Linked DNA regions of Homo sapiens: region 2 is linked to region 1. The links come from fine-mapping of genetic effects on gene expression. Tissue or cell type: left ventricle. Region 1 holds a variant in brackets; the other region holds the start of a gene. All regions are shown on one strand. Distances are between the middles of the regions.

Region 1 (8,109 bases):
GGGATATACAGTTGGGGAGCATTTTACTAGCAAGAAAGCCTGCTACCTGCAAAATAGACCCAAAGGGGACAATTGATAAGTGGACAATAAAATACCATACAGCCATTAAACATAAGGTCAATTGGAAACTCAATGAGTCTGGCTCACTACTGTGTCCCCATCACCTGGCACAGAGAAGATGTGTATTTGTCAGCTGAATTAAGAATGAATGTTCATGAAGAGTTTGTAAGTTCATGAGAAAATTCCTTGATGGTCAGTGGAAAAGTAAAGTATTACCTTTCGTGTATCAGTATGAATTCAAACATGTAAAAAATGCTTTGAAGAAAAAGAAACAGACGGACATGCCTAATGGTTAGGTTATCTCTGGGGGTGAAGGGAGAGGGGAAAGATTATGGGTGATGTGAATTTTTTTCCCTTTCTATTTCTTTTTTTATTTAACTTTTTCTATAATGACTATATATCATTTGGAAGAAAAATTATTCAATGTAAAACTCTCCAGATGGCTAAATGCAAGTGGAGCATGGATGGAAGAATTTGGAGAATTCAACATCTACTTCGACTCTACTTTTTCTAAGGTGGTTTCTTCCCTAGCTACATCCCATTAATGCCCTAGAATATTAAGGGGGTAGGGAAATTAGTGGGTGTGGGGACTTTTGCTCAGGAAGCTGACATACGGCCTGCCTTCTTTCTCTTTACCACCCATTTCCATATGTGGCAATAAAAAAGCATCTTCAGCAAAGGAAGTCTTAAATTCATTCATGGAATGAATATAAGCCACATTATTGAGCACCTGCTTAGTGCCAGACATCACTCTGTTGCTGGTATATATCTCTCATCTGACTGAGAAATTTCAGTTTAAATGCACACAACATTATATATCTGTATACCACTTTGCTGCTTACAAATAATTCTCACATTTATCAGTTTACCAAGAGGTGAGCAAAGTATTAATTTTGGGAAAAACAGTCTACATAAATAGGATTTTGGGGGCCAGGCATGGTGGCTCATGATTGTAGTCCCAGCTACTTGAGAGGCTGAGGTGGGAGGATCCCTTGAGCCCAGGAGTTTGAAGATGCAGTGAGCTCTGATACACCACTGCACTCCAGCCTTGGCTGTCTCTAAAAATAAAAAATAAATAGAAGTTGTAGCGACTTGTCTAAGGTCATCTAAGCTAAGTTGGCATGAACCAGAACTTTGTAGTGCAATGATTAAGTTAAGAGGGTTAGAAGTTAGGTCTGGATTCAAATTCCAGCTGCTTTCTACTTAGCAATATGACCTTGGACAAGTTCATCTGTTTGATCTCAGTTTTCTCATCTATAAAACGGAGATAAAAATAGCAACCATACACGTATGTTGTGCAGATTAAATGTGATAATATATGTAATACATTTAGCAGACAGCCTGCCTATATAGATTAAAAATTAAATGGTGACTCTTATCATCATCATTATGAATGTTAATATCATTATAGATATTAATATCACCAACCCTTTGGTTTTTGTTCCCTAACTTATCTTCTCCATACTTCATATGACCTCCAAGTTTACCTTTTCTCTACTTTTCAGATGTAGGATGTGGATACCAAAGAATTGAGTAGATCTGTCACAAAGCAATGGAAGATGACATTTGATATGGGTGGGCCAACTGCGAATAAAAAGAAGACGTTCACTTGGGAGATAGAAAAGAGAAGTTCTAGTCATGACTTTTCCAATTTACTTGCTATATAACCTTGAATAAGTACCCTCTCTGAATTCCTGTCTCCTTACCTGTGGAATGAAGACAAAAATTCCTAAGGCTCTAGCAAGATTGTCAAACAAAGGCCTATATGTGTGAGTTGCAAATAAAAGGAAAGCACCTTCTGATAAGTGTCTTCTAATTCCCATGTCATTTCTTGTCCCTGTGGCCTGTTTGTGCTGTTTGAAAGCTCGGGGGAATTGGAATAAGTGACAAGGAGGTCAGATGTAAGTTAAAGTGTTAGCCCCCATTTATCTACCATTTTGGCTCTAAACGACTAGTTTCAGTCCAGACCGATTTAGTAAAGTGAGAAAACTGTGACTGCAAACTGGCAGTACACACAATCAGAGGAATGAGTAAAAAGCTTAGACTGCCCTTCAATTCAGAGGTTAAAGCAAGCACACAGACCCGGTGTCTCCCTCACTGTGTGCCAGCCAACCATATATTATTAATTGGGCTCAACAAACATTATTGAGCACCTTCTACTGCAAAACTCTGGCAGGGCGCTCTGGGGAGATCTAAATGCAATGTGAGGCAATGCCCCACTCTTCACCAACCTGCCATCTGGTTGGGATAACAAGATCATCACAGGCAAAACTGTTCTCCCATATCTCTGCCCATTAAAATTTCACTGAGCCCTCAAGGCTCAATTCATAATTAGATTTTCCCCAAGAAGCTTTCCCCAATCCCCTCAGCCCTTTGTTTAATCCTCATTTCTGGAATTTGTCATGCTCTGCATTATAACTTGCTTGTGTGTGTCTTTTTTTCTCAAAATTATTTCCTATCTCATTCCGACAAGCATTTGAATCCACGTTGTGTTATGGGTATGTCTATCTTCTCCCAGTGGGTTGCAAACCATGTCCTATTTATCTTGGTGTCCCCCAAGATCTAGCACAGTGCCTGACACAAAATAGAGGTCAAGAAAATATTCATAACAATGAAAAAGTCAAGACAGCTTAAAATAAGTGCCCAAGGGAATGAGCCAGATACTACGTGTAACTGGAGGAGGTTAGGAAAGGGCAAGGCAAATTAAGATTGGGCTTTTAAAAAGCAAAGGTCATTTAAAAATACTGGATTAGACATATCACAGGCCTGTGCTGCCCAATATGATAGCCGTATTTACTGAGCACCCGAGATGTAGCTAGTCTGAAAACGGAGATGTGCTGTGAGTGCGAAACACACATCATATTTTGGATGCTTCATATTAAAAAAAAGAATGTGAAAATACTTTAATAGCTTTTATATTGAATACATGTTTAAATGATTGCTTTCTGATAACTGGGTCAAATAGAATATATCATTAAACCAAATTTTATTTTATGTTTTTACTTTTTAATGTGGCTACCAGAAAATGTAAAATTACCTATGTAGTTCACGTTATATTCATATCGGAAAATGCTGTCACAGGCCATATATAATGCTTATACTATGATTCAGTAATCCCTGTCTAGAAATTACATCCTAATGAAATAATCCAAAAGTAAGTAAAAATGCTATGCACAGAGTTGTTCACACAGTGTAATTCGTAACAACAAAATATTGGGAACAATTATTTCTAAATTCTGCAGAAAAAAGAATGGTTAAAAAATTTGCCATGATTGGAATATCCAGTAAAATACATATTATGCAAATGTTAATTCTGAAGACTAGGTGGCAACACAGAAAATCCTTAAGACATCATGTTGCTTGAGAAAAACCAGCCCACAGCATACACTGCACACCATGTCTATGTTCAATCTGCATCTGGGCATGCTCTTCCATTCACCCATCATACATGTGCAGAACTATGACTTCCCACCAGGTTCTGTATTCAGGAAAAATCAGAATTAGAGATGAAAGAGGATGAGGAGGCAGCCAGGTAAACAGACAATTGTGTATAAAATATATGCAATATATATATGCAAGGTGAGATGAACACACCTAAGTTTTCCGAAGCTAAGAAATGGCTGCGAAAAATGTGAAGAAAAACAGGAAAGCTATTCTTTTTGTCATGGATGATGTGGGGCTTTTTTTGCAGCGGGTTGGGGGGGATTCCTAAGCTTTCCTGGATTATTACGATAAAAAGGCAGACTAGAGACCAGCCTCTGTCTCTACATTGAGCCTCTGGCACACAGCGTGTGTGTATTCTCTGTTGGTTCACTGTTGGCTCCACTTAACACTAGGTAGCACTTAACAGTGCAGCTCTGAAGTCAGACCTGTGTCTGAACCAGCTTTAACACCTCCAAAGGTGTGAACTTGAGTAAGCTGCTGCACCTCTCTGAATCTGTTTCCCAATCTGTAAGATGGAGATAATTATATTATCTATGGCAATGACACATTGTTGGGAACATTAAATGAAATAATCCACATAAAGCTCCTAGCAGAGTGCATGGCACATAATAACCCCTAAATAAATGTTGGTTTTATTGTTATTGTAAAGATTAGGAAACAGCATGATACAAAATTGATCAGAATGATAAAGCAGATGGTGGAAACTGCCTGTTTCCTACACTACATTCTAGTTGTATTGGGTCATTACTTTCACTTTCTAGAATCTTCTATAGCCATTGAATTTACTCAACCACGTTTTCTTCTGTGTTGTTTTCTGTTTTGTTTTGTTTTTTTGTTAATGCCTTAAAGGATGATGAAATTATAAATGTTCTATATAATGTGATATTGAAATGACCTGATAATTATTTAGGTCCTCTGTCGCTTACTCAGTGGCATAACTCATAAAAGACAGACTGCATTTTCATTTCAAATTCCACTTTTTTTCAGCCGGGCACGGTGGCTCACGCCTGTAATTCCAGCACTTTGGGAGGCCAAGGTGGGTGGATCACCTGAGGTCAGGAGTTTAAGACCAGTCCGGCCAGTATGGCAAAACCCCATTTCTACTAAAAATACAAAAACTGTGTGGTGGCAGGCACTTGTAATCCTGGCTACTTGGGAGGCTGAAGCATGAGAATTGCTTGAACCCAGGAGGCAGAGGTTTCAAGGAGCCGAGATCGCGCCACTGCCCTCCAGCATGGGGGATAGAGCAGGATTCTGTCTCAAAAAAAAAAAAAAAATCCAATTTATCAATCTCCAGGTAACCTCTCATAGTCAAAACTAAAACCAGGTCAATTGCTTTGTTGTGTCTTAAAGAGATGCTGATGAATTCAAGGAATCTTGAAAACAGAAACATTTCATTTTTCCGATACTCAGTCTTGCTCTTTTCTCTTATTACTAAGCAACTTT[G/T]CATGAAAACAGACTCTGTTTTATAAATAGAACATTGTGCAAGGTTTTCTAGAGGTGTCTGCTAAAAATAAAGCAGGTTATAGTTTACTTCTTTATAGCTTTCAAAACAAAACAGCCTAAGCTTGACTAAATTTGCTATATTTCATTTTTGAAAGGTATCTTTATGTGAGCCAGGTCTGATTTCTTGAAATGAAATTCCCCAGAAGTTAGATTTCCTATATTTACACAAGGCATGCCTGTGCAAAGTAATGACACTAGTTTTTTTTTAAAAACATACGCCCTAGAATGAATACAACTTAGTGATGCTATACTTCCACCCTATAAAATACACAATTCTTTTTTGAAAATTGCTTATTTGAAGAGTAAAATAAACATTTTGATGTATATATTTCTAGGTTATCTGCTCACAAATCAACAGCATTACTTTGAAGCTAAAGTACAGGTCCCCAACTTGTGAATTACATTCTAAACTATTTCTAGGTTGCCTGGTTGGAGCTAAAGTGTCATGGTATGGAAACAATGCTAGGTTCCCAGGCAAGTCCCCAGGAGCCAAGCTAACTGATATGATAACATACAATGTTAGAACAATGTGAACGTGGAAAAAAGCCTCTAATCTTCAGCTTTTGATACTAGGCACATGTTTCTCCTTGCACTGTTCTGATGGGGGTCCCCAATCTCCAGTTCGGTGATGGCTCTAGAAGCTGGGTACAGGGACTATGAGTTGGAGAGAGGTGAACCAAGGTTTCCTGGTGTAACTTTTAAGGGTAGTGTTTCTCATACTATGACCAATAAATCTGATTTGCTGAGATTGTTACAGATCAGAAAGGGTTCTATGGTTAAATAAGTTTGAGAAATGTTCCTGCATTTTCCCTCCAATTTTAAGGTATAAAGTGAACATTACCATAGTAAAGATTCTGAGATACCCTGCAGAAAAGAAGCCTGTTTGATGTAATGGATCCTGTTCTAAACATATTGGACCCCCTATAAATTCTGTTTCACTTTTTTAAAATAATGGCTATTCATAAGAGCTAACATTTACATAAAGCTTGCCATGTAGCATGTACTATATGAAACATTACACACAGCATCTCTTTGAGGTGAATGCTGTGATTAACCTTATTTTACAGATGAGGAAACTGAGGCAAAAAGAGGCTAAAGATTTCCAAAGTCACAGGGAGATGTGCTTAACTACCATGCCAGAATAAACCCTGGAAGCCGATCTCCTTGAATGTCACTTTAGGAAACATTATCCAAAGGGCAGGTCCACCCCGTCACTGCTTTCTTTTCTCACATTGGTCCCTCGCTATCATGTCTCAAGCCCATGATTATTCTGAAGCTGTAGTGGGAAATTTTCAAAGGGATAAAAGTTTCTCTCTTTTGCAACAGAGATAGATAGAAAATTCGTTCACATTTCAGAGGAAATCTAGGCTTACTCTATCCTAGTATATTGGTTTCCTATGGCTGCTGTAACAAAACAACCCACATTTATTATCTTATAGTTCTGAAAGTCAGGAGTCCAAAATTAGTCTCACTGTACTAAAACCAAGGTATTGGCAGGGCTGGTTTCTTTTGGAAGCTCTGAGGGAGAATCTAATTCCTTGCCTTTTACAGCTTCTAGAGGCTTCCCACATTCCTTGGCTCCTGGCCCTAAATTACTCTGACTTCTGCTTCTGTGGCCACAACTCTCACTCTGACCCTCCAGCCTCCCGGTTGTGGGGACCCATGTGATTACACTGAGCCCTCTCCACTAATCCAAGATAATCTTCCCATCTCATGACCCTTAATTTAATCACACCTGCAAAATCCTCTCTTCCATGTAAGGTAACATTCACATATTTCTGGGATTAGGATGTGGACATCTTTAGGGCAGGGTCATTATGCTGCCTACCACATTGGCATGTCACTACTGATGAGCTGAAGAGGAGGTGGGCAGGGATCCAGAATTCGCAGGGGAAGGGGGAAGAGACAAGGTCATGGGGCATATCCCTTCCTCACTTGCCCCTCTTACCATCACCAGCTCATCCACAATAGCCCCTGAACAGCAGAGGTGAGATAAAAAGAGGAGTGCAGGGCTGTAATTCTCAAACCATGGTGTGTTTACCCCCAGGAAGTAACAACTGGATCCACAGATCATCCTGGTTTATCATCCTGGAGCAATAATTTTCATTTAAGATATTGAGAATTTTCTAATTTAAATCACAATTTTCATATTAATACAAGCTTGTGCATTTCCAGTTCTGCATAAAAACATTTAAAAGCTCTTCCTAGTTGCCAGAGTACACGGAGATAACACAGTCTAACTCCAATAATAATAGTGATATTTAAATAAATTGATACCTATGAAATGCTTAGATCAACCTGGCACATAAGAAGCTCTCAGTAAGTGATACCTTTCCGTTTTGTTGCTATTCACCATCACTGAAACAATTGTACAGTTATCTGCTGGGTACTTTCAATGCATTAGCTTCACAAGAACTCTGGAAGATATAAAGTGCTAATTTTTTTTTTTCAGTTTTACAGACGATCGAATGAGGAAAGGTCCACAGTGTTTAATCACTCGATTAGGGTCATGCATCTGACTGGTAAAGTTGAGATCCAAACTCAGATTTGGTTGCCTTCAGAATCCCCAGTTTCAATATTTCTTCTTCTCCTTCAAATTTGCTACCCAAGTTTCTCTGGGGCCAGGACAATGTGTCAGAATCATGAGTTAAACCAGAATTAGCATAGTTTGCGAGTGCATTCCTAACAGGCCCTTGTTTGTATGCTTTCTGAGTTATTAGTTCTGCAAAGAACACATTTCTTACTTCCTTATTTTGCCAGTGTTTTAGAAGGCGAGGGACCAGAATTCTGTTCTCTGGAAAGTGGGTTATAACTGCATGGTATCCCATTCTCCCCAGTCCCCTCTACTCTTTATCTGGTGACACACCATCTCTTATGTGAAATGTCTGCTAGCCAGTCAAATATCTTCTTCTTAAAGCCTTTTAACAAGCACACTATCAAAAGTGGTGCTGTCTGCCTTTTTCAATAAACGGAAATTTCCAAAAGTCAGGTTTTTACTGGCTTTCCCTGAAACAGAAAACTCTGAACCAGTGGCAGTGACACTCGATCACAGTGGCTATACATTTGGAAGCATATCTAATACACACACAAAATCTATGC
Region 2 (8,109 bases), 150 kb after region 1:
TTTATTTTATTATTTTACAACCCGGGGCTTGAGTAATCCCCCATATGCTAGCTGGGCTAAGAAATTCCAGAGTGTTCTACTCAAATCATTGCCTTCTTCATATTAGCAAAGCAAGCTAAATAACACCCACCTTGCCTGCCTTCCTAATGTCAAGTGCACTGCCAAGAGATGAATCCCCGTGCTCTGGCATTTTAAACAAAGTGTCACTTTGGGTTCTCTTTCTTTTTCCTGACTTCATGGGAGGTATGAGTCTTTTAAGCGCCAGATGATAGACAACCAGGCCAGTAGGATTAACTAAATTAAAATCTTTCCCTGCTCCTCTGATGTAAGATATCTATAAGAACTGCTTACAAATCATAATGTAGCAGTTTTCATACCAAGTTTGCAGCTGTTTCCTTAATTTCTCCCACAATTATATTTTACTGTTATTTTGCATAACAGTAAAACACAACACCTGCTTCAAATTGCAGTCCTGTTCTAAGTACTGTAATTCTCTTTTGAGACACAAAGTACCGAGACACTACTGAAGCGCAAAACTGCATAATTGCGTCGCGCTGAAAAGTAAATACAAATGAAAACATCTTCCTGTTATAGAAATGACTGTCATTAAAAAGAATGTTAGCCATCAAAGCACAGAGGGGGAAAAATTCACATTTTCAGACTGTGAGAAGTTAGTGTTTGCATAAATTAGAGAGTGGTGTAAAAATTACTTGACAATTCTTATGTTCATTCTTCCATCAATGTCTATTGTGTGAAATACTGAACATTAAGAAGCAAAGGAAATCAAATTCATGTCTAGACCGCTGTGACCTCTGAGTAACAATCTCTGCACCCAGTACTAGAAAGATTTTAAATGTTTCTGGAGTAAACACACTAATTAAACCAAGCAAATGTGGCCTAGAAATAAAATATACATACCTAATATTTAAACATCTAGGTAATGACTTGTAGCAGTTAGCATGATACCCACCCAAGTTCTACTATTTGAAGCTAAGAAGAGACAGAATTTAGCAGCTGATCAATTTGCACTTCTACATGGTCCGCTTGATCCTAATGTCAACCTTCTCTATCACTGAACATCTATGCCTCTTTGCACCTTTGCCCCAGTAAGACAAATAGAACATCTTTTCATCAGCAAGCACAGGCCCCTGTAACTCTGAAAGGCTAAATGGGTGGCTGGCACCTCATTTGAATTCATCTTTGCCATGTTCCCTTTCAAATGTTTCATCGAAACAGTGCACCTGCAGCGTCTATCTTCTTTAATCTGGAGTCCTTTGAAGAAAATGTCAGACTGAGGCAGAGAGCTTCAAAACTTTCACAGCACCTTTACAGACAAGTCAAGAAAAGGCTTATTTTTTAAAATGCTATGTTCATCCCCACCCGTATCTCAAAATGAACACATCTTAAGAATTTTAAACACAAACACCTGGAAAAGACTTTTTCTTTTTTTTTTTTTTTTTTTTTTTTTTTTTTTGGTAAACTCTCAGAGACAAGGGACAATAGACAAAACCACTTCCTATAACCTGAGAAATTTGGAGAGAGCTTGAAACAAGACAGAAGGATACACTGCTTACAACTATCAAGAAGATGTATATTTAGGCAGTAAAACCTTCCAAATGATCAGATTTTCGTGCATCTCACCCTCTTCACACTTACTTTAACTTTTTACACACAATATTTAAAGACAGCACTATTCTTTTCATAAATTTTCATTTTATACTTCAACACACTTTCCACAAAACAAAGGAACCCAGGACGAAATATCAAGAAGCCGAAAGAAAAATCTAAAAGGGACTGACACTGCCAAACATTCATGCTGGTGCTAGTTTGATTTTTCTCTTTAAAAAGAAAATCATGTGAGTACATTTTGCATTTCCTAGACAGCAATCACTTCTGTCCTTTAAGCTGTACAACTAGCAATATTCTTTTCCAGGAATCTAGTTGGAAAACCTTTTAAAGTCGGCTGGCAATGAAGGGATTAAAAGCTGAGGAATTAAATAACTGTCTCCACCTCCTAGACACCAGAAGTCCAATTTACCAAAACTTTCAAAGCAACAACTCATGACCTCTCTACCCCTGCACTGCCCAGCACAGCCTATGAGAAAAGAGCCCGCGGTTTTCTCGTTTCAACAAGGATGCTCATTTTAATCACTTGCCCCAAGATCTCCAGACCGAGCCTGGCGGGACTTTGGAACTTGCCTGCTCCAAATCCGCCAAATTTCGCTCTCTCCTCCCTCTGCCGCGCAGATCCAGTGCGTTCTTAATTCACGCCCCTACTCTTTTATGCCCACTTCCAGTTACTCATCCCTGTATCTGGGAGCGATGCCCACACGCCTTCCCGGCGGGCTTCTCCGCCAGGGTTTTTTTGGGGGAGGCTGACATAAAGTTCCACGTGCTTCTGTCCACCGAGCGCCCTCCCTCCCACCGCACTTACACCTGAACTTGTCTCCAGCACTGCGGACACCCGGGTGACACATTCTTTCGGAGAGGGAGGGCAAGACTTTTCTCCGGAGCCTCTGGCAACTCGTGGAGTCTATATAAGGTGGGGCGGTGGGGGGCGCGGAATTCTCTACTTTGGATTGGTTTGTTTGTTTTAAATCTAGGGTGGTGGGCAGTTGCGCGAGGCGGGGTGGGGGGTGCTTTATGAACTACACACACACACACACACACACACACACACACACACCACATACACTCGCCCTGCCCTTCTAGGCTCACGGCTGGCTCTTCCCGGCTACAACTTCCCCTTCCTTCCTGAAACACCAGCGCCTTACTCGCTCAGTCCCCCGTTGCCACCTCCGTCACCTCCTCGGCCGCCGCTCCTGCTGGCACTGCTGGCGCTAGCGCTGGCGGCCCCGGGCTCCGCTGGACGCCTATCTTTTTTCTCTCCCTCTTCCCTAGCTCTGGATTGATTGATGACCACCGGCGGCCAATGGCTCTGACACCACGCCATCCTCGGTCGGGCATCACAGCCCCACGTCCCCGACCTCAGCCTCCCGGGCGCGTTGGCATCCCCGAACCCACAGCGCTGAGCCCGAGCCCGGGGCCGCCGCCTCCTCCCTGCTCTACGCCTGGGCGCTGCCAGGTTCCTTCCCTGGAACGGCGGAGAAAGGAAGGGAGGGAGCCAGCGAGCGTTGGAAGGGGGTGTGGAGGCCACGGGATCTCCCCCTCTTCTGACATCTTTTTTCACTTAAACTTTTGTTTGTCCCACCCCCCCGACCTGTTTGTGTTTGTTTGCAGCATCTCAAATCAATTATACATTTTTCATGACCCGCATTTGCACTTAATTTGGGGTGTGTGTGTGAGAGGGGGGTGGTGATGTACTATTATAAATCAACTTCACTGGGGCATCCTTAATTTATTTTCTTGCTGACGGATTCCAACCGGCTCCTGAGCCTCTAGAAAAATGCCCCCTTCACCTCCTAGGCCGCAAAACCCCGGAATTCAAAGGCTTTACAAAGATAACCTTGTTATACGTAAATAGCAAAGAAACTCCTGCCTCTGTAGAGAAGAAATCCGGCGGCAACGGTTACTTTTCCTCGGTACTCGTCCCCCGTCGCCTAGCCTCGACCCCAGCTTGGGTCGCCGGGTCGCTCCGCAGGCTGCGAGCGCGGAGACCCAGGCAGCGGCGGAGAGTGAGGTTGGGGCGCGGGGACGGGGTGAGAAAGAGCCCCGAGCGAGAGCGGCGCGCGCGGGCGGCCCCGGGGGCGGCCGCGGGGCGCAGCCGGAGCACAAAGCTGCGCGGTGCCTTCCCCTCGTCACTGCACCTGGCCTCGGGCCGCCGCGGGAGCCCGGGGATCGGGCCAACACAATGCACCCAGGCCTAGGCCGGGGCGGCTCGAACACATCACCCCGGGACTTTCTAGTAAACAGCTCGCTGAGCCCTCGTCCCCACCCCCATCCCCGCCGCCCGGCTTCCCCAGCTTCTCGCCGATACCCCCTCCTCTCCTCCTAAGAAATCCTGGCGGAGGAGGGAGCGAAGAGGTGGGGACCCCCAGAGGTCGGGGGACTGATGGCTGGAGGGGGTGGAGAAGAGAAGAGGCGCAGGATGGGGAGTCGGAGGGAAGACACCTCCTAAAAAAGAATTTGCTTTCGCTCAGGGGTTGAAAATCAGCCCTCCCCGAGCGCCGAATTGCCCGGGAGGCGCCCGCTCGTGCGGATGTCAGGGGCACCGGGGCAGCCCGGGTCCGCAGCCTCCGAGCCCCTCGCACGCGCCTCTGACAAGGCACCTCTCACCCGGGCTCCGCTTTGTGTGTGCATTTTTTTCCCTTCCTCTAGTGCTCGGCACCGGGCTCCCGGCCGCCTCCTCCCCCTCCCCCGCCCTCCGCCTCCCTTCCCGGGGCGGATTACCTTTCCCGGGCTGCGCTCCGGATCCCGGGGATGCCTTCAGCGCCCGGCGAGCAGGCGATCCATAGCCGAGCGGCCCGAGCCGGCTGGAGGAGCGCTGGGGGCGCGCGGGGGCGGCGAGGGGCGCGAGCGGGCCAGAACCTTCGACCCCGGAGGTCCCGCCGCAGGCTGGGGCTGGGGGCCAGGGGGCGCGGCGCTAGAGGGAGGCGGGGGGAGAAAGGACCCGAGCAGCCTCGATCTGGGGAGAGAGCGAGCGAGGGGGCGAGGAGAGGGAGCGAGGGCGCGGCGAGCCGGAGGGAGAGCGAGCGGTGCAGTGACAGGGACTGCCACTGGGGTCAAAGGAGCACAGCTCCAGGAAGCAGGGCGGCCGAGGCGCCGCTCCGTGCGCGCTCCCCGGCGGGACCCCGCGCCCCTGCACGCCCCTCCCGCAGTCCCTGCCCACTCGGACCCCCACCGGTGCCCCGAAGCCCCAGGGTTTCGAGAGGAGGAGGGAGCCGAGGGCGAGGCCCGGTAGCCTGCTGGTGCTCCCGGGTCAAGCAGGCGGCAGGAAGCTGAGCTGCAAGTTCATCATCATGAGTGCGATCTGCGTAAAAAATGATAGGGGAAGGAAGGCGGGCTACGGTGCCCCAGGAAAAGAAGGGAGCTTTCTCCCAAATGGTGTTCTTCTGCAAAGAGAACACCCAGCTCCCCGCCACCCACCGACCTGCCAGGCTCTGTCAGGAGTCCTGGCACCGTTCCAGGACGCAGGGCTCACCGCAGGGGTAAGGGGAGCGGCTGGGACACTTCGCTCAGACCTAGGAAGGCGACCCTAGGTTCCCTCCCATCTGCTGATCTGAGGCTTTCCTGGGGGAGAGCTGTGCTCCTTTTTCCCCAAGCCTTTCAACACGACAGACACACACACACACACACACGCTCACTCACTCACTCACACACTCACCTCTTTCTCTCTGCAATGTTGCTGAGAAAGAAAAGGCCAACCCAGCTGATCATTTTTTTTACCTCCATGAATTAAGGCAGATTCAGGACAGGAAGGTGAGGAGAGGCAAAGACTCTAATTGTTTCCATTTTCGTCTTTTGGATAAAATTTTCCCCAAAAGATAAGCATGTCAAAAGCATTTTAAAAATCAAACTTAGTCCAGTTTTGTCTGCTACTTTGGAAAATGGAAGAAAAGGTTTTCAGAATTTTGTACAAACAACACAAGGAAAGGAAATGCCGCTGAAATGCTGGAAGACAGAAAACAAGGGAGAGAAGGCTTTTAGAAAACTTGGTTGGCAGGGTTGTCTGTGAAAGATGAGGTGGCCCTGTGATGTTATGCCATTGTCATTGCTGAAAGATTGGGACAGCAACCAGATCTAATTCCTTTCTAGGAGTCAGACTGAAAGATCTGTGCATTCTCTGAAGGGAAATCCAATGTATATATATGTGTGTGAGAGAGAAGTGTGCTAAGTATACTATGTGACAACTGACTAGACATCCTGGCTGAAATTATACCCCCTAAAAATAAAAAGGAGCCATTGCAACCTGGTCTGTGGCCTCTGTGCTGAGACTAATTGGTTTCCAGGGTCTGGGGAGGAAGGGAGAGAGGCTTGTAGGAGCCCCTATAAAAAAAGATCAAACGGAATTCACTTGAAAATATTTCCCTTTTACAATGGGCTTTCCTGGCACTTGAATTTTAAGTAACCCATCTCTTATGCCTAGGCTGAAATGAAAAGGGAAATGGTCTTACTAATGTATTTATTTTATTTTACAGCATGCCCAGAGTGTCAGTGCTTGTCAAATGTGCTGGGGTGGAAAGGACAGTGTCTTTCCTTGCCCAGCACAAATCAGAACAAGTGACATTGACATTAAAGGATGCCAAAGATGGGGGCATAGAGGCACCTTTAAATTTTGTTTTCTTTTGTTTTCTAGCCCATCAGCGAACACTGACTAGAATCACGTTTTTGAAGAAATGCTTGGTTTTGTTTCCTTTACTCTGTGACTGAGTACTACATTCCTCATATCTTAATAGTTTGAATTTTTAGACTGATTTGGGCTGATTTAATCAGTTCAAAAAAAAAAAAGCATCACCAGCCAAATAATTTCTGTGGTTTCCTTCTTTAAAAAAAATTGCAGTCAAACAAAACAGACAAACTAGTTTGAACATGATTCTGAATCTAAATATGTGCACCCAGACAGTAAATAATAATGCTTTCTACTTTAGTGGTACATTTTACAGGATACTTAATGCCATAAAAAATCAAGTGGGTTATCCATTACAAAGTTGATGGAAATTTGTATACCATTTTACTGAGTGGGGAAAATTGAGGTAAAAAGGCTTAAAATTGTAATTTGTAGTGCTGGAAGAAGTCAACCTGCTGATAGATCAATTATCCAATAGTGACCAAGTTATATTTGGATTATGAAATTTTATTTTCATTAGGCTACTAGCAAGCTGGAGATATGAAAATGAATTTAAATAATAAACCAGGAACAAAAAGACACTCACTTTTCAAATAATTCTCTTTACGTGGATTTGAACATATTGCATTTTGTTAAATCATATTGTCTACAAATACAGCTACCTACACTAAAAGCTTAATTTAAAATTATTGGATGTGAACCATGTCTATCCCATCTCCCATATAAGCTTTGAAATGTTACCTCATTATATCAAATTTTAAATCCTATAAGCTTCAGCTTTTTTTTAAAGATAAGTGAGTCTATAAGTTCCATTTTCGTTGTTGTTGTTAAATTCAACTTTTATTGTGTATAATGGAAAAGAAAAGAAGGATGAAAATCAAATACTAAGTTTATGATTGGCTTCAAGGAAATATTACAATTTTTTTCTTTTAATGGAATTCAAAGCTGGACCCTTTCCCCAGTGATTTCATTGAAGGAACTGGTAAATATGCTTCCTGATAGCCCACTGCAATACCTTTTAAATTATCTTTTCAGAATGCATTTAGGAAAGAAAATGAGAAAGAGGAGCGTGGGAGAACTTTGGGTGGAAGCTTGGAAAGAAAATGATGCTTCCCTTGAAAGCTCAATACTTTATTTGGAGTTGGCTTTCATCTTCCCTATGAGAACAGGTTTTCCTGTACTTCAGAGATGTGTATGACTTAAAACTTGGTTCAATACTGTGGTTCTTCTTCTAAAAAGCAATCCATTGAAATTACTGCATGTTATTGAATAATTTCATTGAAATGATATGTACCAGTCTAACTGCAGGAACAAACAGCAACTATTTTATTTCTTTTTTTCTGTAAGTTGTAAGCATTTCTATCATTTTACAGCAAAGGCTAAGATGTATATTATCAGAAATCAGAGCCTCTTAATAGAACTACCACTATGATGTAATTAGAAAATAAAACTCAACAAACTATTTTATTTTTCTGAATTCTCACAGTTCTTATGTTCATTCAAATGTTTTTATTATGACCCCTCCAAGTTGAATAACAATGTCCTATATTTCTTTGAGTTCTTTATCTTTATGTTGGAAATAGTTGTTAAATGACTGTGTGGGTCAATAAATGAGAAAGTAAAGAAGAGAACACACCAGTGAATGAGGCAAATACAGAATTAAGAAAAATCCACACCAGATCTGTGGGAGAGGAAGTGATGTCATGAGGCAGTGTTGTAGGATAAGAGCTAAGGACTTCCCAAGGAGTTAAAATAGCACATTTTAAAGGTCTTGCTAATGCCTTTAGAAATATGGAATAATCCTAAGACTGTTTTACAAATTAATTTTCTTATAGAGAGACAAGCTTGTTATGTATCATGTC

Which allele goes with the higher level. Alleles are on the strand shown, and positions count from the first base shown. SD is a standard deviation of normalised expression in the study named.
For the expression in left ventricle of the gene that starts at base 4,662 in region 2, allele G in region 1 goes with a higher level than allele T (moderate effect, 0.41 SD a copy in GTEx).

The links. PIP is the estimated chance that this variant, and not a neighbour inherited with it, causes the effect.
Region 2: it holds the start of MPPED2, and the variant in region 1 is fine-mapped to the expression of MPPED2 in left ventricle (GTEx, PIP above 0.99).

Annotation. Positions count from the first base shown.
Region 1 is chr11:30,427,404-30,435,512 of GRCh38, forward strand. All of the region lies in intron 4 of MPPED2 (metallophosphoesterase domain containing 2), which reads right to left. Among named protein-coding and RNA genes, the nearest start is that of ARL14EP, 110 kb to the left of the region's middle. The variant G/T (reference allele first, on the strand shown) is at 4,951.
Region 2 is chr11:30,581,692-30,589,800 of GRCh38, forward strand. It overlaps MPPED2 (metallophosphoesterase domain containing 2), which reads right to left and starts at 4,662. Exons shown (of 7, transcript NM_001584.3): 1 at 4,351-4,662. It overlaps MPPED2-AS1 (MPPED2 antisense RNA 1), which reads left to right and starts at 2,459. Exons shown (of 5, transcript NR_183760.1): 1 at 2,459-2,542. RefSeq lists a silencer at 4,567-4,616.